2 linked regions of the Homo sapiens genome follow. The protein of the gene in region 1 interacts with the protein of each later gene in a pairwise test. Each region holds a gene or a part of one and is shown in the gene's direction. Other genes may lie near its edges.

Region 1 (16,015 bases):
TGGGTGGCATCTCTTCTGAGGTGTAAGAAGAGAGAACAGGTGAAGAGAACATTTTAAGAGGAGGAGGGAAGATGGACTTTTCTCCCTGAAGATTTCCGTTTTCTTGCTGTACATGGAACATTCACTTTCCTGGTCTGTCATTTAGTGAAGGGTTGACCGAATCTAATTATACAGGGAGCCCAATTCAACGTATAAAATAAAGTCTTACTTACCAACTTGGGAGTGGAAGAAGTGGCCATTGTTGATTATTGGCTACTCTGCCAAGATGTCATTTAAATTACTTCTGTTTGTGGAGAAAAATACATTAGATGAGATGATCTCCATTCACAAGAGGTCAACAGTCCATTGAGCTTCTCCTTGGGCAAAGTTTGTCCTGGAATGTGGATGAGGAGAAAGTGGTTGGAGGATAAGGAATATATAGAGAGGGGAAAGAAGAGAATAGCACAGGAATGCCTCACCCTGCCAGAAATAGACACACAGCCGCTGCCTACCTGTCCTGTCTTGTCGTTCCCAGGAGCACAGAACAACTAGAACCCGTCATCTTCGTAATGCCAACAGACATGTTTTATAGGTTCATGTAGATAACTAGGTTTTATATAGAGGCTGTTTGAAAAATAGGACATCTGTTTATCTTTCTTAAGGGCAGGAACACTTCAGGAATCTATTTTGGATTGATTAAATCATGTACATGGTGAAGTTTTCTGAAAAAGCCAGATTGTAGTTCCACACTGTCATTGTCAGTAAAGACCATTCTCAGGGTTAAATTGGAACCGGTGGTTGATCATGTGAAGGCAATATTTAAAGTATGTCTTGCTAGAGTTACCAGATTATTGCAGCCCCAGTCAAAGATAACAACATATAAATGGAGTTAGCAGAAGTGATTAAATGACATATACCAAGCCTAAGGCTGCTGCTCAATTTCTAGGGTCACAGCTTCCTCCGTTCATGCTGAAAATCATATGAAGATGGGTTGAAAAGAATTAGTGTACACCCAGAAAATAAACAGGATCTACTCATTAGTATTTCAGTGTAAGGATGAAAGCTTTTAAAAGTACCGACATGGCTATGATAATTGAACTAGAAAAATAGAGAGTTTTTTTTTTCCTGTTGTAAATTTTATTTGGAATGTCTGAAATTTTAGAAATCATTCAACATTCTTTTTAATATACAGTATTTTTAAAAAGCCATTTACGCTGGGTGCGGTGGCTCATGCCTGTAATCCCAGCACTTTGGGAGGCTGAGGTGGGTGGATGACTTGCAGCCAGGAATTCGAGATTAGCCTGGCCGTCTCTACTAAAATACAAAAGTTAGCTGGTCATGGTGGTGCATGCCTGTATTCCTAGCTACTCAGGAGGCTGAGGCATGAGAATCGCTTGAACCCAGAAGGCAGAGGTTGCAGTGAGCCACGATTGCACCGCTGTGCTCCAGTCTAGGTGACAGAACAAGACTGTCTCCAAAACAAACAAACAAACAAAAAAACTCGTTTACAATTCATAATCTCTTGACAACTTCATGATCCTGCTTTGAAAATGTGTTTGCCGGCCAGGCCCAGTGGCTCACAACTGTAATCCCAACATTTTGGGAGGTCCAGGCAGGTCGATCAGTTGAGCTCAGGAGTTCGAGACCAGCCTGGGCAACATGGTGAAACCCCATCTCTACAAAAATACAAAAAATTAGCTGGGCATGGTGGTACGCCCAGGTACCCCGGAGGCGGAGGCGGGAGGATCACTTGAGCCTGGAAGGTTGGTGCTGCAGTGAGCTATGATGGTGCCACTGCTCTCCAGCCTGGGAGATAGAGCAAGACCCTGTCTCGGGGGAAGAAAGATGCTTGCAATTTAGAGATCTCTTAAAAATACTTTAAAAATGTGACACTGAACTGAACTCGAAATTCCAAATTTTAATCATGAGTTAAATTCTACTGACGCTTTCACTATGTTGATAGAAAATGAGAGTGGAGAAGAGCACAGTGAGGGAGAACACAGAGTTCTCAACTTAATAATTTTGTGTTTTTATCATAACATGTGAAATGAAAAGTTTAATAATGTCCTGTTCCATAAAGGCTAGAATGACTACTTGTGCTTGTAAGAATTGTGACCGCTCAGTAATAAATATGCGGCGTTTAACAGAATTGGTGCATTGTGTGATGCTGTGTCTCACCTAATGTCCTGTCTCTGTGGCGTGTGAAACCCTTCGAAGACTTGAGCTTGAGGTCATCTAAACACTTGAATATATGCAGTTAGGTTTTCAGCACAGGGGCTGTGTTCTGTTTTGTGAAGAATGTGCAGTCACAGTAATTGATGGAAGCATTTTACATGAAGGTCTCCCTAATGAAGAAATATGAAGATATTAATATCTGATTTTTACTGCAAAAGTTATTTTTCTGCCGTATTTATAGATTTTCAGAGATCTATGCTAAAGATATTTAAGCTTTAGACTGGGAGCCCTTCTCCTTCAAGGCTAGACTAAGTAAACACTCTTTGTTTTGGCTTCGGAAAATGCATTTTAGAAATCCCAAATTGCAGTGAGTTTAAGTAGTGTGATCACCTTCTAAATATCAAAGTATAGCCCTTGGCTCAGATGGTCTTTGGAGTTTAATTTCCATAAGCAAAGGAGTCTAGGCGATAAGGTCCTTTTTAGATGAAATGGTGTTGGAGTCTCTCCCCGCTTCAGCTTTACTGTTTGTTTTGCATGAGAGCCACAGCCATTGTTTTGATCAGGGTGGTTTTTATAGTGAAACCTGAATTCGTGGTTCTTGGTTACATTACTGCACGGTTAACAATGTCTTCCAAAAAGTGTATTTTTTCATTTAATAATTTATTCTACTCACAGTAGCATTCTGTTAGCCAAGTTTGCAGAGTACATTCAGGTTTTTCAAAGATTTCAGTTAGGAATGTGGTCCACAAGTCCGTCCCAGCTGTATTGTGTCCCGTGAGAACTGCTGAGTAGGATGTGGAAGGTAATTGCATGTTTGGGAATCCAGTTGGGGATGAGTGGGTGGTGGTGGGGGCTGTGGTGGGACTGAGCACCTGGGACAGCATGGGGAGAGAACAGCCAAAGCAGTCTGACGTGTTGGCCATGGTCTGTGTGTCTTAGGGGATGGAACAGTGCCAGAGCCTTCTGGTGGGGGGATGGAGGGGGAAGCAGCGTGGCGCATCAGCAAGTACTTTTTTTTTTGTTTTTGAGACAGAGTCTTGCTCTGTCACCTAGGCTGGAGTGCAGTGGTGCGATCTCAGCTCAGTGCAACCTCCGTCTCCCTTGTTCACGCGATTCTCCTGCCTCTGCCTCCCAAGTAGCTGGGACTACAGGCGCACACCACCGCACCCAGCTACTTTTTGTATTTTTAGTAGAGACAGGGTTTCACCATGTTGGCCAGGATGGTCTCGGTCTCTTGACCTCGTGATCCGCCTGCCTCGGCCTCCCGAAGTGCTGGGATTACAGGCGTGAGCCACCGCGCCCAGCTGGATTAGTGAGTATTTATATTATATAGAACTCCAAGTTCTAATGTTAGGCTTCAGCTGTAGAAAAATCTTTATTTACTCACTGTTTCTTATCACACCACTATGCTGTGGTTCCCTTTCCTCCCTCAGTGGCCGACATCTCCCCTGTCAGGGCCTCCCGTTTGGACCCTTCAAATCTTGGGGTTCTGCTCTTGGATTTTTTTTTTCTTCTGCCTGCTCTCTTCCTTGGTGATCTCATTCAGTTCTGTGGTTTTAAATACCGTCTTTCATATTTAGACAACTCTCAAATTTCTATCTGCCGGCTGGAGTCTCCCACATATCTGCTGCCCACTCACAATCTTTACTTGGATAGCCCGTAGCTGTTCCCATCTTACCCTGTCCAAAACTGACCTCCCGATCTGCTCCCTGAGGCTGCTTCTCCTCCTGTCTCCCTCTCGGTTCCTGGCCCCCTTGTTCTCTACGCTGAGCAGTCTTTGGCATCTTCTCTGGTACTGTTCTCTCCTCCTTTCCCTCCCTCTCCCCACTCCAGCATCAGGCAACCTTGAAATAGATTCACAATCTGCCCCCCACCCCCGTTGTGCCCCAGCCCACACGCGCTCCACCTGTGTTGTGGCTGCAGCCTCTGACTGCTCTGGTCGCCCTCCAGCTTCTGCCCTGGCTGCCCACAGGTTTTTCCATTTTACTGAGACCGTGGCACTCCTCGGTTCAGAATCCGCTGGGGGACTTCTCATTTGATTCATACTAAACTCTAAAGTCCTAAAAATTGTCCTTTATCCATGAGTCCAGACGGATCTTGAGAAAAAAAAAGATTCAGGTTGGATGCAGTGGCTCACACCTGTAATCCTAGCAGTTCGGGAGGCCGAGTTGGGCAGATCGCTTGAGCCTGGGTGTTTGAGACCAGCCTGGGCAACGTGGTGAAACCCCGTCTCTATAAAAAATACAAACATGAGCCAGGCGTGCTGGTGGTTCCTGAGTATGTAAAATTCTGTCAGTCTAAATCTACAGACGCACCTATAGTCCCAGCTACTCAGGAGGCTGAGACGGGGGCCCGGAAAGCTCAAAGCTTCAGTGAGCCGTGATCGCGCCACTGCACTCCAGCCTGGGTGAGAGAGCGAGACTCTGTCTAAAAAAGAAAAAAAATTGAATAAATAAATGGAGGAAGATAGACAAATCAGTTTCTAGAAGAATTATAAATATTTTGAGTAGCGAAACTCTCTGTCTCTTAAGAATGGGCTACATGCAGTGACTTCCTTACCAAGAATACAGTACAGGGAGGGGTGAAAGTAACCTGACTGTGAGGAAACCTGGCAGATACTACCTCAGTCACGTGGTCAGGAGCAGCGTCAACATCGATAAATCGTGTTGATTTTACCCGCTTGCTACGGTGTGGTGGAAACGACTCTACCTCTGTGGCTTTTCTCCCCAAAACAGAACCCCAATCTAATCAGGAGAGAAACGTCAGATTCCAGTTGAGGGACATCCTACAAAATACCTGACTAGTACTTCTGGAAACTGTCCAGATCATTAAAAGCAAGGAAAATCTGAGAAACGTACATTCCAGAGGAGCCTTAGGAGACATGACAGCTAAATGTAAGGTGGTGTCTTGGAAGGGATTCTAGGATGGAGAGAAGGCCTTGGGTAAAATGAGCAAATTTGAGTGAAGTATGGACTGTAGTTGATGATGTGTCAGTACTGGTTTGTTAGTTGTATCTAGTATAATGTACTAAAGTGAGATGTTAACAGTAGGGGAAGCTCTCTTTGCAACTTTTCTGTAAGTCTAAAAGCATTCTAAAATAAGGTTTATTTTTAAAAAGAACCCCCTTCATGATAGGTTCTCTCCCAGGATGTGCCCCGGCCTTACCGCTGTCCCTCAACCGCTGTGCTCCAGCCACGTGGTCTCTTTCTGGCTTCCCTAATCTAGTGCTTCTCTGCGGGGTGTGACTTTCTGCCCTAGAGGGTGTTTGGCAATGTCTCGAGATAGAGGTATTTTTAGTCATCACAGCTGGGTGATGAGGGGGATGCCACAGGCTTCATGCTGGTGGGGACCAGGAATCATATTGAACACTCTACGTTTCCCCAAAGAATCTAAGAGTTGCCCAGCATGTCACTAGTGTAAGCCCTGACCCTTTGGATTTAGGGTTCCCTCTTTTCCTTCAGGTTCCTGACCCTGGTCTCTCTTTGCCCTGCTTTAGTTTTCTCCTTAGCACTTAATTATCAGCATCGGATATACTCTGTTTACTTGTCTGTCTGTGTCTGGCCAGGAAATGTATCTTCCATCAGGACTTGTTGGTAATTTGGTTCACTTTTGAATCCCCAGCGTCTAGAACTGCACCTGATACATAGTAGATGCTCATTAAACCTATGTAAAAGGAATTAAATAATTAATGAAAGGGGTGAGTGGATGATAAAGACAACACATACTCATGCTAAAAAAAAACCACAGTAGAGAAAAATGCCACAGTAATCATTCCCTCAGCTACCTGTTTCTCTACCGGTTCTCCAGAAGTTACCACTGTTAACAGTTGCTTGTCTGCCTAGACTTTTCTGTCCATTTTAAAGTATATCCGTGGGTACATTGTATCTACCCCCCTTCTCCTCTCTTTTAAATAAACATAAATAGGATCAGCTTCGTTTTTCCAGTTTATATAGCTAGACATATGTCAACATACAGAGTGCTATCTTTTAATGGCTGCATGATAACTTTATACGTAGAATTAAGCAAAAATACTTCTAGTACTTGCAATAGAATCCTGGTATAATATTTTGTTGTACAATGGATGATGGTAAAAATGTCTCCTAAAACATAATGTGACTCCTAAAACAAAAGACACTGCTTGCTAAACATCATCCAAGTGTTTCTGGTTTTGTTTTTTTGTTTTTGAGACAGAGTCTAGCTCTGTTGCCCAGGCTGGAGTGCAGTGGCGCGATCTCGGCTCACTGCAATCTCTGCCTCCCGGGTTCAAGTGATTCTCCTGCCTCAGCCTCTGGAGTAACTGAGATTACAGGCTTGCTCCACCATATCCTGCTAATTTTTGTATTTTTAGTAGAGATGGGGTTTCACCATGTTTTGGCCAGGCTGGTCTCGAACTCCTGAGCTCAAGGGATCCGGCTGCATTGGCCTCCCAAAGTTCTGGGATTACAGGTGTGAGCCACCGTGACCAGCCTCTTTATATGTATTTTTATTTCTAGTTTGTAAATCCCTTGGGATTGGGATCTTTGTCTTTTATTCCTTAACACCATGCAAGGTTCTGTCTGATAAGGTCCTCCATACCTGTAGGTTGAACTTTTTATTTGTTTTGATAAAATTACAAGATTATTTTATAATATTCAAATTTCCCTGAGTATTAGAACTGTTGACTAAATGGAGATACTTAAAGAGATAGTTTTGGGAGAAAATTGTTTTCTTATTTTGTTTAAATGATAATTGTTCTCCTAGAAGCCAAAAATCTGTCTAATTTCTGACTTTATCTGGAGAGGAGAAGGCATCATAGCTAAAGAACAAGTTAGGGTGGCCAACTTGAACGTGGTTCAATATCAATTAAGCTTTAATTGCTTTAAGCACATCAGGTCTTTTTTTCCCCCTAAGGCAATGACTTATGGGGCAGAGTTGGCAGTAGCTAAGTTAAGATACTATAAATTAATGTTGTCGTACCAATTTCAACTGGGCTGTCAAACCCACCCTCCAGTTTGCTCTTCATTTACCTCTGGTAGCATTCACATTTTGTGAATATTAATTTGAGAGTCACTTTGCAAGATGACAGTGCTGTCCTTTGTGAAGCTGTGTTGATTTACAAGATGAATTTGTTGGCAAAGGGGAACAGTTGATCTGAAAATAACTGTCCTGCTTCCCTGGCCAGACCTCAGCCCAGTGGACTTCGCCCACCTTCCCATTTGTCATTGTTAAAGGCAACGTTTTCTTCATTTCTTCAGTTTCTCTCTTTTCTCCGCCAGTCACCCAGGGACTGTCCTGCAGAGTCTGCCACCATGTATTAATAGACTGATTTGACCCTTGACGTGTGTTAGCTTAGAAGATTTAGCTTTTGTGTGTGTGTGTCATCTTCTCATGGAGGGGCCCAGGGTGACAGGTTGTTCGATGCCCTGAAGATAGGAGACATTCTGTGAACAACTGGTTGTTGACAGCAGTGGTGATAAAACATTGATATAGTTGGTAAAGTTTGCTTCACTGACTTAGAGAGGAAAAATGCTGTTTGACATCAGGCTGCTGAATTCTGGTTTTTCTTTTGTAAATTGCCTTTCTTTGGGGCTTATGTTGCTGATAAGTATTATACTTGATATAATTATTTTAATACTTTTAAGTAGTTACATAGAGCGAAATGAGACAATAAACCCTTACATTATGTAGGGAGTGAACTTAACCATTCTTATACAGAAATAATATAATTTCAGGATACATTTTGAAATGAGATTACAAGCTGTTCTTATGGAGCGCCATGTAAAACCACTGCTGGTTTTTGTTTTTTTCTGAATTAGTTGTCAGAAGCTTTGCATTCTCACAATACTGTAGGGGCATTATGTTTGCCAGCTTTTGATCATTTAATTCATTGTATGTAAGTAAATGTAAACAATGTTCATTAATTTTTAACAGTTGCTTATATTTGCCTTAACGATTTAAATATAAAAATATAACTTAGTTGTTACAGTTAGTAGCCTTTCATTTGATACTCATGAAGATTTTTGAGTCGTTTAAATATGAAAGAGAGGACCTTGTCGTTCAAAAATGAAAAGGAAGTTTTTGTTAAGCTTAATAATTCTAGACATGTTACAAGAATGTTGATACTTATATTGGAAAACATGAAAAACATCCCAAACCGTTGCATTTATTTATATTCCATGTGTATGGAAAATATTTTTTTAATGAGAAGTTTAAAACAATGTACACACTTTTGCTTGTTTTATTTCCCCAAGGTAACGATTCTGATTTCTTCTGTTTCAGATTCCCGACAGTTAAGCAATGGGGAGACATTTGGCTTTGCTCCTGCTTCTGCTCCTTCTCTTCCAACATTTTGGAGACAGTGATGGCAGCCAACGACTTGAACAGACTCCTCTGCAGTTTACACACCTCGAGTACAACGTCACCGTGCAGGAGAACTCTGCAGCTAAGACTTATGTGGGGCATCCTGTCAAGATGGGTGTTTACATTACACATCCAGCGTGGGAAGTAAGGTACAAAATTGTTTCCGGAGACAGTGAAAACCTGTTCAAAGCTGAAGAGTACATTCTCGGAGACTTTTGCTTTCTAAGAATAAGGACCAAAGGAGGAAATACAGCTATTCTTAATAGAGAAGTGAAGGATCACTACACATTGATAGTGAAAGCACTTGAAAAAAATACTAATGTGGAGGCGCGAACAAAGGTCAGGGTGCAGGTGCTGGATACAAATGACTTGAGACCGTTATTCTCACCCACCTCATACAGCGTTTCTTTACCTGAAAACACAGCTATAAGGACCAGTATCGCAAGAGTCAGCGCCACGGATGCAGACATAGGAACCAACGGGGAATTTTACTACAGTTTTAAAGATCGAACAGATATGTTTGCTATTCACCCAACCAGTGGTGTGATAGTGTTAACTGGTAGACTTGATTACCTAGAGACCAAGCTCTATGAGATGGAAATCCTCGCTGCGGACCGTGGCATGAAGTTGTATGGGAGCAGTGGCATCAGCAGCATGGCCAAGCTAACGGTGCACATCGAACAGGCCAATGAATGTGCTCCGGTGATAACAGCAGTGACATTGTCACCATCAGAACTGGACAGGGACCCAGCATATGCAATTGTGACAGTGGATGACTGCGATCAGGGTGCCAATGGTGACATAGCATCTTTAAGCATCGTGGCAGGTGACCTTCTCCAGCAGTTTAGAACAGTGAGGTCCTTTCCAGGGAGTAAGGAGTATAAAGTCAAAGCCATCGGTGGCATTGATTGGGACAGTCATCCTTTCGGCTACAATCTCACACTACAGGCTAAAGATAAAGGAACTCCGCCCCAGTTCTCTTCTGTTAAAGTCATTCACGTGACTTCTCCACAGTTCAAAGCCGGGCCAGTCAAGTTTGAAAAGGATGTTTACAGAGCAGAAATAAGTGAATTTGCTCCTCCCAACACACCTGTGGTCATGGTAAAGGCCATTCCTGCTTATTCCCATTTGAGGTATGTTTTTAAAAGTACACCTGGAAAAGCTAAATTCAGTTTAAATTACAACACTGGTCTCATTTCTATTTTAGAACCAGTTAAAAGACAGCAGGCAGCCCATTTTGAACTTGAAGTAACAACAAGTGACAGAAAAGCGTCCACCAAGGTCTTGGTGAAAGTCTTAGGTGCAAATAGCAATCCCCCTGAATTTACCCAGACAGCGTACAAAGCTGCTTTTGATGAGAACGTGCCCATTGGTACTACTGTCATGAGCCTGAGTGCCGTAGACCCTGATGAGGGTGAGAACGGGTACGTGACATACAGTATCGCAAATTTAAATCATGTGCCGTTTGCGATTGACCATTTCACTGGTGCCGTGAGTACGTCAGAAAACCTGGACTACGAACTGATGCCTCGGGTTTATACTCTGAGGATTCGTGCATCAGACTGGGGCTTGCCGTACCGCCGGGAAGTCGAAGTCCTTGCTACAATTACTCTCAATAACTTGAATGACAACACACCTTTGTTTGAGAAAATAAATTGTGAAGGGACAATTCCCAGAGATCTAGGCGTGGGAGAGCAAATAACCACTGTTTCTGCTATTGATGCAGATGAACTTCAGTTGGTACAGTATCAGATTGAAGCTGGAAATGAACTGGATTTCTTTAGTTTAAACCCCAACTCGGGGGTATTGTCATTAAAGCGATCGCTAATGGATGGCTTAGGTGCAAAGGTGTCTTTCCACAGTCTGAGAATCACAGCTACAGATGGAGAAAATTTTGCCACACCATTATATATCAACATAACAGTGGCTGCCAGTCACAAGCTGGTAAACTTGCAGTGTGAAGAGACTGGTGTTGCCAAAATGCTGGCAGAGAAGCTCCTGCAGGCAAATAAATTACACAACCAGGGAGAGGTGGAGGATATTTTCTTCGATTCTCACTCTGTCAATGCTCACATACCGCAGTTTAGAAGCACTCTTCCGACTGGTATTCAGGTAAAGGAAAACCAGCCTGTGGGTTCCAGTGTAATTTTCATGAACTCCACTGACCTTGACACTGGCTTCAATGGAAAACTGGTCTATGCTGTTTCTGGAGGAAATGAGGATAGTTGCTTCATGATTGATATGGAAACAGGAATGCTGAAAATTTTATCTCCTCTTGACCGTGAAACAACAGACAAATACACCCTGAATATTACCGTCTATGACCTTGGGATACCCCAGAAGGCTGCGTGGCGTCTTCTACATGTCGTGGTTGTCGATGCCAATGATAATCCACCCGAGTTTTTACAGGAGAGCTATTTTGTGGAAGTGAGTGAAGACAAGGAGGTACATAGTGAAATCATCCAGGTTGAAGCCACAGATAAAGACCTGGGGCCCAACGGACACGTGACGTACTCAATTGTTACAGACACAGACACATTTTCAATTGACAGCGTGACGGGTGTTGTTAACATCGCACGCCCTCTGGATCGAGAGCTGCAGCATGAGCACTCCTTAAAGATTGAGGCCAGGGACCAAGCCAGAGAAGAGCCTCAGCTGTTCTCCACTGTCGTTGTGAAAGTATCACTAGAAGATGTTAATGACAACCCACCTACATTTATTCCACCTAATTATCGTGTGAAAGTCCGAGAGGATCTTCCAGAAGGAACCGTCATCATGTGGTTAGAAGCCCACGATCCTGATTTAGGTCAGTCTGGTCAGGTGAGATACAGCCTTCTGGACCACGGAGAAGGAAACTTCGATGTGGATAAACTCAGTGGAGCAGTTAGGATCGTCCAGCAGTTGGACTTTGAGAAGAAGCAAGTGTATAATCTCACTGTGAGGGCCAAAGACAAGGGAAAGCCAGTTTCTCTGTCTTCTACTTGCTATGTTGAAGTTGAGGTGGTTGATGTGAATGAGAACCTGCACCCACCCGTGTTTTCCAGCTTTGTGGAAAAGGGGACAGTGAAAGAAGATGCACCTGTTGGTTCATTGGTAATGACGGTGTCGGCTCATGATGAGGACGCCAGAAGAGATGGGGAGATCCGATACTCCATTAGAGATGGCTCTGGCGTTGGTGTTTTCAAAATAGGTGAAGAGACAGGTAAATATGTTTTTATTGCTCTCATTTGATGCCCTTTTCCATTTTTTTTTTTTTTTTAACCATCTGCCCTGTGGCAGCTTCTTCAAAATTCCCTGTTGCTCTTTGGGCTCGGTATAGAAGTGCGTGTGAATATTTTTTTTGGCCCGGCTGCTGTATTGTAGATGTGTTTATTCGTAGTAAGCCATGAAGATGGAAACAAAAGGGCCTGAGTGATTTAAGTGGCGTAAAGTGAGTAAAAGACCAGGGATACATTGAAATTGTTATCACTGATACTGATCTCCAAACTCTATTTTGAACTCTATTATCAAAAGCATCATTATGGTTTTGTTCTGACTTTGAGAAGTCTTTCCAACTTTTTTCAGTCAGTGTATTTGCAGGCTCATACTTAGAACAACTACTGCTACCATCTGGCGTGCCATTCAGAGGTTGTTGCACACCGGCAAAGTTACCCAGTGCAGAGATGATGTGCCAAAACTTCTCTAATGTGGTCTTCACTTAGTACCTCGTCTAGGTTTTGGTCGAGAGGCAGAGGCGGGGTAGTGGCATGCTGAACTGAGAAGACCTGGCTTGGAATCCTGGCTCTTCTAGTTGGTAATTGGTGATCCTGGACAAGCAAATGACTTCTTAGAACTAACTTTTTCCTCTTCTACATGGGGACACTTAGAAATACCGGAAGGTTTAAGTGAGAGTAAAGTGAAATAACACGGGAAAACTCCTGACGTGTGGTAGGTTTATTCATGGTAGCAGTGCTTTGTTGTAATACTGAAGGTTCTGAAACCGGGACCTCCAAGGCAGCAGTCCAAGCTAGAAAGTGCGTGTGTTGCACTTTGTACATACCTCAGTCTTGCTGCGCAGATATTGTAGTTATATGTCAATATGTCCTGGTGGAGTGTGAGCCTTTCGGGGCAGGCTTTTAGCCCCTGCATCTTCTGTGTTTAGCACCTAGCAAAAAGTGCCTGGCACATAGAAGCTGGTCAATCAGTGTTAAAAGACTGCAGGAGTAAATGAGCGAATGTGTTGGCTTTTCATGTCCTGCCCTCTGAGAATGATAGTGGAAATAGAAAAGGGGTGATCATAGCACTCATCAGCAATAGGTGGGGCTCAATTTGTTTACTAATCTCACCCATGTGTACTTTATAAATCTGTGCATTTTAAAAGGGACCTTTTTAAAATTACCTTTAAACTTTATATATTCAGTAATACCACACACACAAAAAAACAAGAGAGTCTTCAGTCAACACCCACCCTGGGATCCATGCCATCTGATAGGTGTGTAGCACATGAAAAATGTAACTGCTGTTTAGAAAAACATTATTTTGGGCTGGGTGCGATGGCTCACGCCTGTAATCGCAGCACTTTGGGAGGCGCAGGTGGGAGGATTGCTTGAGGCCAGGAGTTCAAGACCAGCCTGGGTAACAGCAAAACCTCGTTCCTACCAAAAAAAAAAAAAAAAAAATGCTGGGGTGGTGGTACACCTGTAGTCCCAGCTACTTGGGAGGCTGAGGTGGGAGGATGGCTTGAGTCCAGGAGGTCGAGGCTGGAGTGAGCTGTGATTGTGCCGTTGCACTCCAGCCTGGGCAACAGAGCCAGACTATCTCAAAAAAAAAAAAAAAAAAAAAGTTATTTTGGAAGTTGTAATATATTTTTTGTGCTTCTATTAATGCAAGGAATTCTTTCTCTGTTGGTTATGTGCCACTAGCATATGGCCTATGTATTAAGTCTACAGACTATATATCACTATCTAAAATACCCATAATTAGTTTATTTCAAGAGAAACTAGCATAATCAACAGCATTTGATAATCCTCTGAAGAGTAGAATGTCTTTTTTATCATTTTATCTGTCCAGTATAAGTTAGAATTTTCAAATACTGTTTCAACATAGAAAAATACCCCAAATTTAACAACTGAAGCTGAGTCAAACTGTTTTTGTAAAATTTTTGAAGAACAGTTATTCCTACTTTTTTTCCTTCTCCAAAGTAGGTTTCAAAAGCCTATAAAGAACTGTTAAAAGTTAAAGTTGAGACAAAATGGAACCAAAACCTTAATTTAAATTCTCTTCATGACTTTGTATGAACACTGCCTTTTGGGTTTTTTCTTTCAAGTGAAGAAGAGTATTTTTATTGTTGCTTTTTAAGGAATCATTTCGAAACTAGTATTTTTCACCTACACATTTAAGAGATTGGGATATTTTTACTACCAAGAAAAAAAAAATAAGGAAACAACCAGCCAAACGAGGTGGTGTCCCAAAATAGATTTATGGTATTTTCCAGAAAGGGCAGTGCCAGACTTTTCCAGTAGTAATTTAGTGGGAGGCGGGGAGGTGTTGGGATTGTGGGCAGTGTGGTTGGTAAGTATATAAGAAACTGTGTGTAAATATTGAGATTTAAAGGTGAGAGAGAAGCTGGAAATTTGTAGGTCATTTATTCTGTGGTCCTTGCTTTACAGAGAAAGTAAGTAGTGTACAGTAGACTTACGTTTATATGCTTTTGGAAATGAACAAAAGTGATAGAATAATATTTACACATTGGACCTCGTATTCATTACAAGATACATTTTTTGGCAGAAGAATTATCAGCCCAAGTTATTTCTTCAGAGATTCCTGGCAGGACAATTGGTATCACAGTGTAGAAACTCCTTTAGGAAAAATCAGTATATTTTGTTGGCTAAAATTAGGCATGCTAATTATTCACTTGGAGTGTGTCTTAACTAATTTCTAGGGCATGAAGGAAGTGTGGAAAGATGCGTGTCAGGTGAAGAGATGGAGGGGCAGTTGAGGAACACCCGTGGGGGCTGCCAGAGACTGCACTACAGCTTGGTGTGCCTTGGCGTGCACCCGGCCCAGGCCAGGCTGGTGCTTGCTGGAACTTCGCTCCTTGCCCATTGCCCATGTCCACCAGGGTCTTCTTTGCCTAACTCGGGGGCATTTAATATTGCGCTAATTAATATGAGCCTGTGCAGGAGTGCTGTGGCTCTGGGGACCAACAACCTGTCCACGTAACTGTTTGCTTCTTGTCTTTGACTTAAAGCTACTAGTGTTGGTTGAGTATTATAACCAAATTTTTGTCATATTTTACCTATTTCAACCTAGTCAAATATGTGTATCATTTATATACTTTTCACAGAACAGAGAACCTATCCAGCAAGCTGAATGAAGTTCTATTTTAAGATCTTTCCTTTTCTTCTCTTTAAATCTGCTTAAATTGGAAACATCCTCTGAAACGTAGTTTTCTGTTTTTGTAGAAGTAGAAATTCTATGGACTACCTAAAAATCTGTCACCAAACGGACAGTCCTGTTAGCTCTGTGTTCTTAGCTCCGTGGTTTGTACATGTTCTGCAAATGGCTTTGCAGCGAGAGAAAGCGTAGTGGCAGAGTGGGGATGGCGGGCGTGGACTCTGCAGGTCTCACGGTATCATCTGCCCTTCCTGGAGAGGCCTCTGGATGTTGGTGAACTGTTCTGACAGATCCATGCCACGTGACTGCCCTTCCATGTGAGGTCTGGAAGGGGAGAGGGCCATGTGAACAATTATTTGGAAAGTCGGTCTCGTTAGAGAGCCAGTTTCCAGAGCTCTAATTAAGATTCTCCTCCTCAGATTGCTATCTGTAAGGTCTACAGTGAGGATTATAAAGTAGATTTAACAAAGATGTTTAGCGGAGTAAAGATCTTTGAAGCATGTGTAATCCCACATTCAGGGTTCGGTCTGCCTGCCATGCGTCTCAGCATCCAACCCCCTCTTCTACTTCAGATCCATTCTCTGTTGCTTTGTTGTAAGCTTCAACAGGTTTTCCTGTAATTTAAGCAGAATAAAATCTGGAGCATCCCTCTTGTGGGTGTGTGGAATAAATTTGGTGTAGTGTTCTTAGCTGATGTGTACTTAGCAAGTTAATTATTACTTGAGCACCAATGAAATGCTGCAGCTTTTTGTTCATTTTTAAAACTAAGGGAATGTCTAGAAAAATGCCTGGCCAGAAGATTTTGTAGAAATTGTGAATAGAAGTTGGTGTTGAAGCAGTGTTGGGTTGAGGTCTGTTCCCTGATGTGTGTATTGCGTACAGGACGCCCTGGAATGTGTTTGACCTTCAGTCTAGAGTAGTTTGGTTCTCTTTTTGGCTGTTAATGTTAGTATACAAAGCAGCCCAGGACGAGTGTTTCCCCTTCTGACTCTACTTATTTGGGGAGCCCGTGTTTTTCATTAAGATAAGAGCAGATCTCTAAACATATTACTGCTGTGTTACTTTTAGCATCCCAATCCTGGTTTCAGGATTGAAATTTACGTTTTGATGAAAAGACTGGGAATGAATTAATATGGAAGTACAGCCG
Region 2 (15,213 bases), about 18 Mb from region 1:
AAGTAAAAGAATGTGCCAGGCATGGTGGCTCATGCCTGTAATCCCAGCACTTTGGGAGGCCAAGGTGGGTGGATCACGAGGTCAGGAGTTCAAGACCAGCCTGACCAAGATGGTGAAACCCCATCTCTACTAAAAATACAAAAAAAAAAAAAAAAAAAAAAATAGCCAGGCGCGGTGGCGGGCACCTGTAATCCCAGCTACTCGGGAGGCTGAGGCAGAGAAATGCTTGAACCCGGGAGGTGGAGGTTGCAGTGAGCCACAGTCGCATCACTGCACTCCATCCAGCCTGACAGAGCGAGACTCCATCTCAAAAAAAAAAAAAAAAAAAAAAAAGAATGTGACTGGGGCAGCCGGTGCTGTCAATGGAAAGAAGCAACCACGTGGTATAAAGACTTAAGCAATCTCATAGTAAGAAAGGATGAACCTTGAAGTGTGTTGACAGGTCTTGGTGTCAGCAGAGAGAATTCTCTTAGGAACAAAAGGATTCTTCTGTGTTTGTTAGAGAGACTGAAGAAAACAAGCAAGAAATAGTGCTATATCCTGGAGGCAGAAAATGTATAATTGATGACAGCAGAAACAATAGAACAAATATATTAGGCTCTATTTTAGAGGGATTGAGAAAAAAATAATTAGGAAATTGCAAAGAGAAAGTGGAAAGAAAATATTTCAGAAGGGATGGCAAATAAAAGAAAGTATATGACAGGTTTTTCTTCCAAAGAAAAAAAATATATATATAAAGAGTTCAGGGAGACACAGCAAGTCATCTTTATCTGTGTGTATTTTTAAATGTAGGAATTAAACTGAGAACCACATACCTATAAGCTCATCTCCTAAATTGGGGGAAAAAAAAAAATCTATGTATGATCTTTGATCAGGGATTAAGCTAGAACACTTGGAAACATACAAATTGGATAGAGATAGATTTACAGAAAGGCAGCTGGGCTTAACCAGCATGATTAATTTCTTTGAATCAGTGACAAGGAACCCACTGGGTGAAGCAATGGACGTAATTTACTTGGACTTGGAGCAAGCTACAAAGGGAACTAGTATGGTTATGCCAGTGAAATACTTAATTGAATATTAGATTGCTGTGGCAACTGGTAGAAAGCAGTAAGTGGTTACTCACCCAGGTCAGAGTGATGAACTGAGTGCCTCCCAGAGCAACATGGGAGCCAATTTGGGCTATACCAGGGGCGATTAGAAATGAAAATGTATGAACTACAGAGAACACCAGAGAGGCTAGAAAAATAAAGGAAACAGGAAATGTATACTAATAAAAGATTGTAAATGCCCATTCAGATGGAAGTTAAAATACCATAGCATTGGAAGTCTGTGGAGCTTCTTTATATTGCAAGACTCTGTTTCTTGAATTGTACCTTGGCAGTTATCACCAAAAGTTGAGTTAAGGTCACACAGCCACCAAGAGGCAGAGGCCATTCAGGGACCGGTCTGTGAGCCACTCTGGTCACCCCATAATGCCTCCACAGCGCTTTGTTCAAAGGGAACAAGGGGTGCTTTCCAACCAAGGTGCCAGTCAGCTTTATACATTTTTCCTTTCTTTTTTTTTTTTTTTTGCCTTTTTTTTAAACAAAAAATTTTATTCATTCATATATCTTATTTTTTAAATTGTGGTAAAGTATACATGAAAATTTACTATTTTTTCAAGTGTACAATTCAGTGGCATTGAGTACATTCATGTTGTCATACAACCATTCACTGCTATCCGTTTCTAGAACTTTTTCTCATCCTAAACTGAATCTGTACTCATTAAGCACTAACTCTTCATTCCCCCTCCTCCAGGCCCTGCAACCACCCTTCTACTTTCTCTCCCCGTAAGTGACTTCTGGGCATCTCATAAGTGGAATCATGCAATAGTCTTCCTTCTGTGTGCATGCAGCTTATTTCACTTAGCATAACGTTTGCAAGGTTCATCCCTGTTGTAGCACGTGTCAGAATTTCATTCCTTTTTAAGGAGCTTTGTACATTTTAAAAAACAGTTTTTCTATACAACTAGGCTTTTTCTTTTTGCCACTTGACATGCTTATTAAGAATTAAAGGTACTATGCTAAGTCCTATGAGGCATATAAAGTGAATTTAGCATCATCTCATCCTTCAAGCAGCTTATGGTTTGGTAGAATAAACGAGACGGACACAGATGGTAATAATACATTGTAGACTGTGCTAAGTGCTGTAAGACATATACATGGAGGCCTCTGCGATTTAGTCAAGCATGAAATTGCCTCCAGCCATGGGGCTGGAGATTTCACAGGGGAGAACTGGAGCCAGGCTTTGAGAGAGTGATAGGGTATGGGTGGGAGAGATAGCGTCAAAGGAGACTCCCACTAGAAGGAACTGCATGAGCCAAGGTGTGGCGTGGGGGAAGTAAAGGCCCTGAATAGGGGACATGTTCAGGCTTAGGGGAGTGTTTGGGACTTTTGTGGTGATAGTAGTAGCTACAGCTGTGTAAAAAGAGATTAGGGCCTGATCACCAAGGGCTTCGCATACCAGGCTGAGGATTAACCTTGCTCACAGGCATTGTAAAGCTGTTAATGATTTTTTGGCAGTGGGTAGCTGCAAATAGAGTTGCCACTTAAGAATATTAGTATGTGAGCTCTGCATAGACTGGGTTGGGGACAGGAAGAGACTTGAAGGAGGCCAAGGTGGGTGGATCACCAGGTCAGGAGTTAGAGACCAGCCTGGCCAATATATTGAAACCCTGTCTCTATTGAAAATACAAAAATTAGTCGGGCATGATGGCACACACCTGTAATCCCAGCTACTCAGGAGGCTGAGGCAGGAAAATTGCTTGAACCCAGGAGGCGGAGTTTGTGGTGAGCTGAGATCGTGCCATTGCACTCTAGCCTGGGTGACAAGAGCGAAACTCAGTCTTAAAAAAAAAAGATATTTGACGAGGTGGAAGGTAATGAAGTCATCAACCAGGATAGTGACAGTGACAATGAAGAGGAGTGGATGGGATGCAGATTTTGAAGGTAGATCAGCAGGTCCCATGTAGGTCATGGGAGAGTATTCATTGACCCCTGAGGTTCAGAACTTCCCCAAACCCCTGTTCATATAAAGAAAAGCATAATCCGAGTGAGGCAGAGGGTGGAGCAGCAGATGTAAAGGGCCTCTGCAGCTGTGCCTTACATCTGTTTGTTGGTCTGTAAATGTTCTACTTGGCAAAGCCTTTCAATGCCTGAAATAGTTGGCCAGTTATGCCCAGTATTTGGCCTTACAAATCTGTATTAGAAAACTGCAAACCACCTCACAAGGCTCAAGATCAGGACCTGAGCTGGAAGATTTCTAAGTAGAGTCTATTACTCCTGCACCTGGTAGTCTTCATACGATCAAGACTGTGTCACAGTTTCCATTATGCACATAGTTTCTCATTCCACCCGCCCCCCCAGAGGTTTATAAAACTTAGCAATGAAAATTTGCTCCCACTGGGAACTTGGCAGGAAGAGTATGTTCTTAGCCCAGCAGCAGTTCTAGTTCAAAATTTTTTTTTGACAAAATTGGTTTAGTGCATTTTATAAAATGCATATATTAATCTAATTCACTTCAAGTTTTTCAATAACCATTTTTATTCCATTTCACCTTTAAGGCAGCTCACAGAGAACAAGTAGGGAATATATCTCATGAGAAGTCTACTCTGAATATGTTTTGAGTCACTTGTACATTTTTTCCCAGAATTATAAAGCTTTGCCTTAAATGTTTAACTTGCCCCACATGGCAACTACATCATTGCTTTTTCATGGATTTTTAGCATGTTGACATTAGACTTGAGAAATGTCATCTGGATCCTTCTTTCAGATAAATTCATGATGAAATTATTTGTCTTGCTTTTAAAGGTGTCAGAGAGCTGGGCATAGCGGCTTATGTCTATAATCCCAGCACTTTCTGGGGCTGAGGCTGGAAGATTGCTTGAGCCAAGGAGTTCAAGACCAGCCTGGGCAATATAGTGAGATGCCATCCCTACAAAAAGTAAAAAGATTAACCAGGTTTGGTGGCACACACCTGTAGTCCCAGCCGGAAGGCTGAGGTAGGAAGATCAGTTAAGCCTGGGAGGTCAAGGCTACAGTGAGCTGTGATTGCATCACTGCACACCAGCCTGGGCAACAAAGTAAGACCGTCTCAAAATAAAGATATCAAAGAAGGGATTCCAAAACCCTAACTGTGTTGATCTAAAGTTTGTCAAATCTCATTTTCAGGAAATGAGGCCTGAGTTGTGGCCTGAGTTCGTTTCCTAGTTAGAGATGTCCAGCCACTGACTGGCCCATTCTTCACCTCCTTGAAGTGCCAGGCCTCTGCCTACTCTTGTCTAAGCCATATGATCATAATGGGAGCTAATATTTTCAGGTTGAACTCTTTGTCAGACACCATACGAAGAGCATCATACTTGTTTAACTCATTACAGTCCTATTCTACAGATGAGGAAACAGACTGAGAGCTGAGATAACTGGCCCAAAGTTAAGCTGCTCTAACTGACCTTAAAGACTGTGTCAATCCTTAGGCCAGTGTTTCTCCCGCTGTGTCATGCTTCCTTCCTCATTCCATGCTTGATCAAACCCCAGCCTTGTGGTCTATGAATATTCATGTTTGAATTAGCTGAACCTTTCTCAGATATGATAAGCCAACTTCTGTGCTGTGCTTTTGCTTCAGATCTTGGGTAGTAATTTGGTCCCTGTGCCAAAGGAGCTCAGGTTGTTCAAGCAGCCACTTACCTTTTGCAGAGATGTGTTTTTTTAGTGTAATAGTCTGGGACTCTTGCTGTGGTCTTTCTTAAATGGATTTTGGTTTATATGGAATGGGAATTGGTGAAAGGGGCAGGCTGTAATAGGTTTCAGAAGTTTGGGGACAGTTGTATAGAATTTGTTCTGCCTATCATTTTGAAGCCATAATATTTTTCACTTTCAGTCAGGAGTGGGTCCCACGAGGCTATACACTCATTTTCTGACTTTGAGAACCAAATGAAAGTAGAAACCCAAAATCAACTTTATGACTGACTACTCATTACTTAGCATCAAACAGTGAAAGATGTATTTATTAGATATCTGTTGCCATGTAACCAGTTACGCCCAAAAGTCAGTGGCTTAAAACAATAATAAGCATGTATTATTTCACACTTTCTGTGGGTCACATAATTATGGAACAGCTCATCTGGTTGGTTCTGGCTTAGAGTATTTCTTGAGATTGTAGTCAAGACATCAGCCTGAGCTGATGCTCAACTGGGGCTGGAGGATCCCCTTCTAAGATGGCTTATTCACATCACTTTTTCTGGTTAGTTTAGGCTTTTGGAAAGAGGCCTCAGTGCCTTACCATGTGTTTCCTCTCCATAGAGATGTTGAGTGTCCTCACAACATGGCAGCCAGTTTTCCTGAGTGACCGATCCAAGAGAAAGTAAAGTGGAAGCCATAATGCCTTTTATGATCTAGCCTCAGAAATCACCCACTGTCATTTCTGCAACATTTTATTGGCCACACAGGTCATCCTGTGCATCATAGGAGGAGACTACACAAGAGTGTGAATACCAGGAAGCAAGGATCACTAGGGCCATCTTGGAGGTTGGCTACCATACACCACCATTCTTTTCCCCCCTTTTGTTGAGAAGAGGAGTAATGCAAATAATGCTGGAAAAATAGAGAAAGATAAAAGGATATAGAGTGTAAAACAAGTCACCTCCCTCTCGTTTCCTACAAGCTGTAATTCTGCACAGGAAGGCTAAGGAGCATGGAGGCAGGGGCACAGATAATATTAAACCAACTAAGCTTCTGCCATTTTTAAGCGATAATGACACCTTTCCCACTAACTCCAAATTCTGAGCCAAGGAGAAACAGACCCAAATGTCAGAATAATAGAGATGAGAATGTCAACCTCGTTACTGGTAATGTTGGATTGAACTTGTGGCCATAGCCCTCCCCTCCATGTCTGGACCTTGGGACTACCTTCCCAAGGGATAATCTGGGTATGTGGGGCAGATTACCTTCCTCAGAATTGCTGCCTCGCCCATGTCAAACACCAGTGTAAGGGACGTAGGGACACAGAGACAGACTTCCAGACTCACCTTCCTGACCTCTGTGTGCTTACAACATAGAGGTGGAGCAGAGCCTCCTTAGCCTGTGGGCAGGCGGTTCAGAGAGGACTGAACCCCCCCTGCTCAGCTACTTCTCCCAGTCTCACCAATCAAATAAATTCACTCCTGTTTCCTTGGAGAAGAGGGAGGGATAGAAATGATACCCCTCTCGGGAAATGAAATGAAACTCTCCTTTATGGCCAAGATACAAACACTGGTAGGGAACAAGGATGGCTGTCCTTGTTAAGGTCACTCAGATGAACCAGTCTGGGCCATCAGTAGTGGGTTGACACACATATCCAAATCCAGTCTTTGTTAGTACTAAGTCTCTACTAAACAGAAAATAGCAGTATTTTGAGTTGTTTTACAATCATAAATGAATTAATGTTATTTCCTATTTATGTTGAAGGTTCGTGCAGACTAACAGTACACCATTTTTTAAAATCACTGCTTTGAATCGCCTTAACCAAAATCTCTTTCTTTTCTAGGCACAGGGTGGTGGTTTCCTATCCTCCTCAGAGTGAGGCAGAACTTGAACTTAAAGAAGGAGATATTGTGTTTGTTCATAAAAAACGAGAGGATGGCTGGTTCAAAGGCACATTACAACGTAATGGGAAAACTGGCCTTTTCCCAGGAAGCTTTGTGGAAAACATATGAGGAGACTGACACTGAAGAAGCTTAAAATCACTTCACACAACAAAGTAGCACAAAGCAGTTTAACAGAAAGAGCACATTTGTGGACTTCCAGATGGTCAGGAGATGAGCAAAGGATTGGTATGTGACTCTGATGCCCCAGCACAGTTACCCCAGCGAGCAGAATGAAGAAGATGTTTGTGTGGGTTTTGTTAGTCTGGATTCGGATGTATAAGGTGTGCCTTGTACTGTCTGATTTACTACACAGAGAAACTTTTTTTTTTTTTTAAGATATATGACTAAAATGGACAATTGTTTACAAGGCTTAACTAATTTATTTGCTTTTTTAAACTTGAACTTTTCGTATAATAGATACGTTCTTTGGATTATGATTTTAAGAAATTATTAATTTATGAAATGATAGGTAAGGAGAAGCTGGATTATCTCCTGTTGAGAGCAAGAGATTCGTTTTGACATAGAGTGAATGCATTTTCCCCTCTCCTCCTCCCTGCTACCATTATATTTTGGGGTTATGTTTTGCTTCTTTAAGATAGAAATCCCAGTTCTCTAATTTGGTTTTCTTCTTTGGGAAACCAAACATACAAATGAATCAGTATCAATTAGGGCCTGGGGTAGAGAGACAGAAACTTGAGAGAAGAGAAGTTAGTGATTCCCTCTCTTTCTAGTTTGGTAGGAATCACCCTGAAGACCTAGTCCTCAATTTAATTGTGTGGGTTTTTAATTTTCCTAGAATGAAGTGACTGAAACAATGAGAAAGAATACAGCACAACCCTTGAACAAAATGTATTTAGAAATATATTTAGTTTTATAGCAGAAGCAGCTCAATTGTTTGGTTGGAAAGTAGGGGAAATTGAAGTTGTAGTCACTGTCTGAGAATGGCTATGAAGCGTCATTTCACATTTTACCCCAACTGACCTGCATGCCCAGGACACAAGTAAAACATTTGTGAGATAGTGGTGGTAAGTGATGCACTCGTGTTAAGTCAAAGGCTATAAGAAACACTGTGAAAAGTTCATATTCATCCATTGTGATTCTTTCCCCACGTCTTGCATGTATTACTGGATTCCCACAGTAATATAGACTGTGCATGGTGTGTATATTTCATTGCGATTTCCTGTTAAGATGAGTTTGTACTCAGAATTGACCAATTCAGGAGGTGTAAAAATAAACAGTGTTCTCTTCTCTACCCCAAAGCCACTACTGACCAAGGTCTCTTCAGTGCACTCGCTCCCTCTCTGGCTAAGGCATGCATTAGCCACTACACAAGTCATTAGTGAAAGTGGTCTTTTATGTCCTCCCAGCAGACAGACATCAAGGATGAGTTAACCAGGAGACTACTCCTGTGACTGTGGAGCTCTGGAAGGCTTGGTGGGAGTGAATTTGCCCACACCTTACAATTGTGGCAGGATCCAGAAGAGCCTGTCTTTTTATATCCATTCCTTGATGTCATTGGCCTCTCCCACCGATTTCATTACGGTGCCACGCAGTCATGGATCTGGGTAGTCCGGAAAACAAAAGGAGGGAAGACAGCCTGGTAATGAATAAGATCCTTACCACAGTTTTCTCATGGGAAATACATAATAAACCCTTTCATCTTTTTTTTTTTCCTTTAAGAATTAAAACTGGGAAATAGAAACATGAACTGAAAAGTCTTGCAATGACAAGAGGTTTCATGGTCTTAAAAAGATACTTTATGTGGTTGAAGATGAAATCATTCCTAAATTAACCTTTTTTTTAAAAAAAAACAATGTATATTATGTTCCTGTGTGTTGAATTTAAAAAAAAAATACTTTACTTGGATATTCATGTAATATATAAAGGTTTGGTGAAATGAACTTTAGTTAGGAAAAAGCTGGCATCAGCTTTCATCTGTGTAAGTTGACACCAATGTGTCATAATATTCTTTATTTTGGGAAATTAGTGTATTTTATAAAAATTTTAAAAAGAAAAAAGACTACTACAGGTTAAGATAATTTTTTTACCTGTCTTTTCTCCATATTTTAAGCTATGTGATTGAAGTACCTCTGTTCATAGTTTCCTGGTATAAAGTTGGTTAAAATTTCATCTGTTAATAGATCATTAGGTAATATAATGTATGGGTTTTCTATTGGTTTTTTGCAGACAGTAGAGGGAGATTTTGTAACAAGGGCTTGTTACACAGTGATATGGTAATGATAAAATTGCGATTTATCACTCCTTTTCATGTTAATAATTTGAGGACTGGATAAAAGGTTTCAAGATTAAAATTTGATGTTCAAACCTTTGTATGTCCCTTGTGTCAGTCCTTAAAATTTTGCTTTTTAAAAAAACAAAACAAAACAAAAAACACGGGACACATTTGACCTAATTTGTACCTCACAAAAATTCTTTGCATACATCTCAAGCGGAAGATGTCTACAGGAATCAATTTGGTGATTATGACACATTTTACCTCTGCAACTAACAAACCTTGTTTATTTCTCCAAGAAGCTTAAAAAGAGTTTGTGGAGTCGCACGAGGTCATGTATGGCACTTGTGTTCCCCTCTTCCTCTTCCAGTTACTAAAATAATCTGGTGAGTGCTAGTTGTCTTAGCCATAGAAGGAAAAGCAGACCTATCAACCAATAGTATGATAACCCGTAAGTCTCAGCATGGCTTGGGGACAAAATCTTTAGATTCACCATGGTTTTAATTTCCCATGAAATGAAAGGCCCATGTAAGTCATGTTAAAAACTATTTTCTTATTAACTTTTGGCTACTGTCAAATGACTTATCAGAATTGAAAATCAGGAATTCTAGGTTGTATTGTAGCTTTTCCAAAAACTATCTCTGTAGCCACCTGGGCAAGTTGATTATTACTTAGTTTCCTCCTTTTGGTGTCCCATCTACCCCACTGGGTGAGGATGAGGAGCAAAGGAGATAATCTCACTGTTTTTGAAAAGTGCTATTTTAATGTGTGGCATTAAGTTTATCTCTGGTTTCAAATATTCATCTCACTCTCTTGGAGTATATGATATAATGCTTTTCAGGGTCTGATTGGTTTTAGAAGGAACAAATTAAGGTGATGTTTCCAACTGCTATGCATTTAACTTTCTGTTCCTATAATAGAACATATTTGCATACCTCCAGAAGAACATTCAATTCTCTGAATATTTCAATCCAGAGCTATAAACAACATTAGAATTCGGCTTTGGAAATTGTGTTTAATAGATGTTTGACTAAGTTTAATAGATGTTTGACTAAGTTTAATAGATGTTTGACTAACAACTCTTTGTGTGTATTCATCAAATTTTTAAAAATGTGTTTTGAATCAAACTATGTCATTATCAATGTCACATCCTATTTAAATTACTTTTTTTCCAGGAAAAATAATTAGCAGCCTACCAAAATCAATAAGATATTTATAAGAGATTAGTCATGTCCAGGCAAAGGGGTGTAGCCCTCGCTAACTCCCTGTGGCTGCAGGCTGTAATGGGGTATGCTGGGGAACTTTGCCCTGTCCATTAGTATCACCAGAGGCAGGAAGGAGCTATTAGAGTGAGTAGTCACCTGCCAATGTGAACAGCGACAGTTTTAAAATACCTTCTCTCAGGTTTACAGATGAACATCCCTTGGATTCCTTTTGTGTTTCCTACTAATAAATTTCTGATTTGGCTACTTTTCCATTTCAGAAACACCACCTGCATCTCACTCAGTGCAAATTCTTACTGTACTATGGCCATCCAGGCTCTGTAACCATGCTGCAGGCACCTGCGAGTGGCATTAATCTTTGAGTCCCATTCAATACTATTATAGAGTCAGACTATTCTAATAAGTCTCCAAAGATAATGGAATTATCCCAGCCAGTAACCAGTGAGCCAGCTGCCACTTCTATTGCCTACACCTTAGATACGAAATTTGGTTCCAAGAGGTCTCTGACCTTGGGGTTGAATCTTTCAAGCTCTGAATCCTTGTGAAAGTACTAGAAGAAGCCATGATAGACTTTGGCATGAGAGGGCATTCCTAAATATGATTCAAAATTTAGAAACTGTAAAAAAAAGAAAACCTTGATAAATTGTACAAAATATCAAAATAGTTACATGACAAAACACCATAATCAAAGTCAAAAGAATAAACAATGAAATAAATCATTTGTAAGTCCTGTAGCAGGCAAAGAGATAATTTCCTTTACATATAAAAAAAAACTTCTACAAATAAGAAAAAAAACCCAAAGTAACACTAACCAAGGATTTGTGACAGAAATTGCCAATTGTCGTGGCCGAGCGCGGTGGCTCAAGCCTGTATTCCCAGCACTTTGGGAGGCCGAGGCGGGTGGATCACAAGGTCAGGAGATCGAGACCATCCTGGCTAACACGGTGAAACCCCGTCTCTACTAAAAATACAAAAAATTAGCCGGGCGTGGTGGCAGGTGCCTGTAGTCCCAGCTGCTCGGGAGGCTGAGGAAGGAGAATGGTGTGAACCTGGGAGGTGGAGCTTGCAGTGAGCCGAGATCGCGCCACTGCACTCCAGCCTGGGAGACAGAGCAAGACTCCGTCTCAAAAAAAAAAAAAAAAAAAAAGAAATTGCCAATTGTCTCTGAATATTTTCATTTTCTTTTTTCTTATTAACTGATATCTGGGCTTTGTGCTTAGTTAAAAAGCTCATTTTTGTCAGGGTGTGGTGGCTCATGCCTGTAATCCCAGCACTTTGGGAGGCCAAGGCAAGCAGATCACCTGAGGTCGGGAGTTTTGAGACCAGCCTGGCCAACCAACATTGTGAAACCCCGTCTCTACTAAAATACAAAAATTAGCCACCTGTGGTGGTGCATGCCTGTAGTCCCAGCTACTTGGGAGGCTGAGGCTCAAGAATCATTTGAACCCGGAGGTGGAGGTTACAGTGAGTAGAGATCGCCCCACTGCACTCCAGCCTGGGCCGCAGAGGCAGACTCAGTCTCGGAAAAACAAAACAAAAAAACTCATTTTCCAGTCTCCCTTAAGGTTAGGTGCAGCCTTGTTACTAAGTTCTTGCTGAGACACAAATGAAAATATCACAGGGAACTTCTGGTAAGGCTTCTTAAAAGGGAGAGGAGGCCAGGCGCAGTGGCTCACGCCTGTAATCTCAGCATTTTGGGAGGCCGAGGCGGGTGGATTGCCTGAGGTCAGGAGTTCAAGACCAGCCTGGCCAACGTGATGAAACCCTGTCTCTACTAAAAATACAAAAATTAGCCAAGCATGGTGGCACACGCCTGTAATCCCCGCTACTCGGGAAGCTGAGGCAGGAGAATCACTTGAACCCGGGAGGCAAAGGTTGTAGTGAGCCAAGATTGCACCACTACGCTCCAGCCTGGGCAAGAAGAGCAAGACTCTGTCTCAAAAAAAAAAAAACTTAAAAAAAAATTTTTTTTTAGTTTTTTTTTTAATAGTTATTGTGAGAACATAGGTGACTGTTGGAAACAGAATGCTTGTTCCCAGGTACTACAAGGAAAAATCAGCATTCAGACAAAAAGTTCTCTCAGCAAGGCAATTTTACTTTCTGCAGAAAGGGTGCTCTTAGCAGATGGAACAATGGCAAGAGCACCCTTTCTAAATAAAAGCAATTTATTGTAGAATTGTAGAAAGTAAATATAGTTTCCTCTTCAAAGTTTCCCTTCTTGTTAAAGGATAATAATAAATCATAAATGTTAGAAATAATTTAAAGACTAACTTCCTCCAAGCCTCCTTGCTTTGTGCTAATAACTCTTTGTTAAGCCCTAGCCTATGTAGCTGTTAGACATGCTCACAAGGCACATAAGACATTCTATGTCTTTGTACCTTAACCAAGATATTTGTGCTAGACATGCTCACAGGCACGTTCCAGCTTGCAGCTTATGCCCCTTCCCTATTTGGCATAAGCAACTTCCTCTTTTCCTTCGTTCTCCCTTGCCTTTACCTATTTAGGACAGTTTTAAATTATTAGCCAGTCAGGTTTTAGTTTAGATTGTGCGGTCTGGCTCCAGCCAGTGGACACAGGACACAGTAGCAGGGACAAGCTGCGTAAGGGATAAAAATTGCTTCCCTCCTTTGTTCAGGTGTGCTCTCGCCATTGTTCCATCTGCGAAGAGCACCCTTTCTGCAGAAAGTAAAATTGTCTCACTGAGAGAACTTTTTGTCTGAATGCTGATTTTTCCTTGCAGTACCAAGGAACAAGCATTCTGTTTCTAAATAAACGTTTTACATATAACAGTGACTTTTAAGATGCAAGAGATGTACTAATTTGTTGGAGAAAGAAGGAAGGAACATGATACCCTAGTAAACTTGAGCCTTCATGCCAGCCTGAACTACTCATCTTTAAATATGATTTATTTGAGAATAAACCTCTTGAGTCCAAGCTACTGTAGTCTTAGCCACCACCAACCTGACTGGTATCAATATAAACTGACAGTTCATTAAAAATATATTTTTTATGTAAATATTATTTCTATATTATTTATATATATATACACTAAAAGATGTTCCACCTAATTCGTAATGTAAATGCAATTAACAACAATGAAATACTTTTTACCTATAAAATGGGAAATTTCTAAAAATTTGAAATGTTGGCTAAATGAGGGACATTCAGTATTTTGCTGATGACAATGTATAGGGAAGGCAATATAGATAGAAAATACCAAAATTACAAGTGTTGTTTACCCATTCTACTTTTAAGAATTTGTTCCAATATACTTATTCATCAAGTGTAAAATGACAGTACCATATTCTTTGCAGTGTTGTTTATAATAGCAAAATATTGGAAACAACCTAAATGTTTACCAATATGGAAATGGTTAAATGGATTATGGTAAATCTATACAGCAGTATACTGCATAACCATAAAAAAGAATGAGGAAATTCTTTATGCATGGGTATGGAAACATCTCTGAGATAGCTAAACAAAAAAGATAAGGTAGAGTGTGCTACCATTTAGTAAAAGGAGGGGAGAGAATATATATACCAATAAACTTCTATATGAATACAATATCTGGAAAGATACACTCGAAAGAAACTGGAATGATGGTTGCATTACCATTGAAGATGGGACCTTGTGCTAACTTAAAGTACATTAAAGTCTCATCAGAAAACAGACACATCAAAGTGAAGTGGCTACATTGTCTGGGGTAAATACCTGGAGTTTGTCTTCTCGCCCCAGGAAAATTAGGACACAGACACTCACGAGGAGTTTAGGAGTGGAGGTTTAATAGACAAGAGAAAGGAAAGCAGCTCTCTAGTGAGAGAGAGGGGACTTCCAAGAGGAAAAAGACCGGCCAGCAGGGGATGTGCTGGATTTTATAGTCAGGTTTGAAGTGGCGGTGTCTGATTTACATAAGGCTCACAGATTGGTTTGCATAGTGTGCATGGAAGGCTGGCCACCCCACCCTAATCTTATTATGCAAATGAACTTTTCCCTTGGCCCGGGGCCATCTTGTCTCCTCTTTACTTTACATGTGGCTGACAAAGAGAAGGGAAGATGGAGCTGCCATCTTGAACATGATTGGCACAACTGCCGGCATCTATGCCTGCAACTAGATTTTACAGGCTGCTCTTTGTTAAAAAATGATTTGGGGCTGTTTTTCATTAAAAATAAAAGCCTCACCCAAGGACTTACCTACCCTCACTGTCTATCTAAGTAATTTCTTCTTAACTCCTGTATCAAAAATAAAGCCCTTGACCTATGGAAGCTGTATATTTGAAGGGAGAGTGAAGAAGGGAGGAGACAAATATTAAAATTGCTTTAGGAAAATGAGATATTTGAAATTAACTTAGAAAACAAGGGATACCCACTTTGGTGAGAATTATTAATTATTTAATGACTGAGTTCAAAAGCAGACAGAAAAATGACATCATTTAGACAGTCATACCGAATTTCTCCTCCTTTAATAAGTATTCAGAACACACTACCTTTAAGGATTCAAGATAGCCCTGAGGTTGCCTTTCCACAAAGGATTAACTTCTACTTCTTTGCCATTTGGGAAATTGAGAACCAACTGACATATTTTATGGTGCAATGGAACCCATGAAAAAGGCCTTACAATATAAATTGGACATGTATCTAAATCAGTAGTAAGATGCTACTGGGGCCTCTGCATGTATTCCCAAGATGCAGAACCCCTGAGAGGCTCCTTCCAATGGTGTGAAGTTCAGGAAAAGTATCAACCAAAGGTGAACCTATGGTACACGCATCCAAACTGGGATCTCATCTGAGGACAAACCTGAAACAAGGCAGGACTTCCACAGGTGGCTGTCACTCCTGTGTCTCCTGGTACAGAAGCTGCCAGAGGGGTTGTCAGCAGTTCTAGTTAAGCACGTTACTTACACGTCCATGGAAACAGACTCAGATCTTCAACACGTAGCTTGGCATCCAGGTATTGGAAGATGAGAGAGTAAGTGCAAGGGTTGTCTGCTTGGCAAATATCAGCTCATAGACCTTGCCCACTCCTGTTGGTTCGTGTGGAACAAAGCAGCCTTCCAGCCTTAATGCCACACCCCCTCAATAGAGCTTCTTCAGGCAGA

Evidence for each region.
Region 2: the proteins of FAT1 (region 1) and SH3RF1 interact in a two-hybrid assay, tested with the Homo sapiens proteins (one study listed by BioGRID).

The regions. Positions count from the first base shown.
Region 1 is NC_000004.12:186,702,243-186,718,257, reverse strand, and holds part of FAT1 (protocadherin Fat 1 isoform 1 precursor), read left to right. Parts: intron 1-8,412; 5' UTR 8,413-8,430; coding exon 8,431-11,695; intron 11,696-16,015.
Region 2 is NC_000004.12:169,088,036-169,103,248, reverse strand, and holds the end of SH3RF1 (E3 ubiquitin-protein ligase SH3RF1), read left to right. Parts: intron 1-6,561; coding exon 6,562-6,730; 3' UTR 6,731-8,990; downstream 8,991-15,213. UniProt on the Homo sapiens protein: Has E3 ubiquitin-protein ligase activity. In the absence of an external substrate, it can catalyze self-ubiquitination. Stimulates ubiquitination of potassium channel KCNJ1, enhancing it's dynamin-dependent and clathrin-independent endocytosis.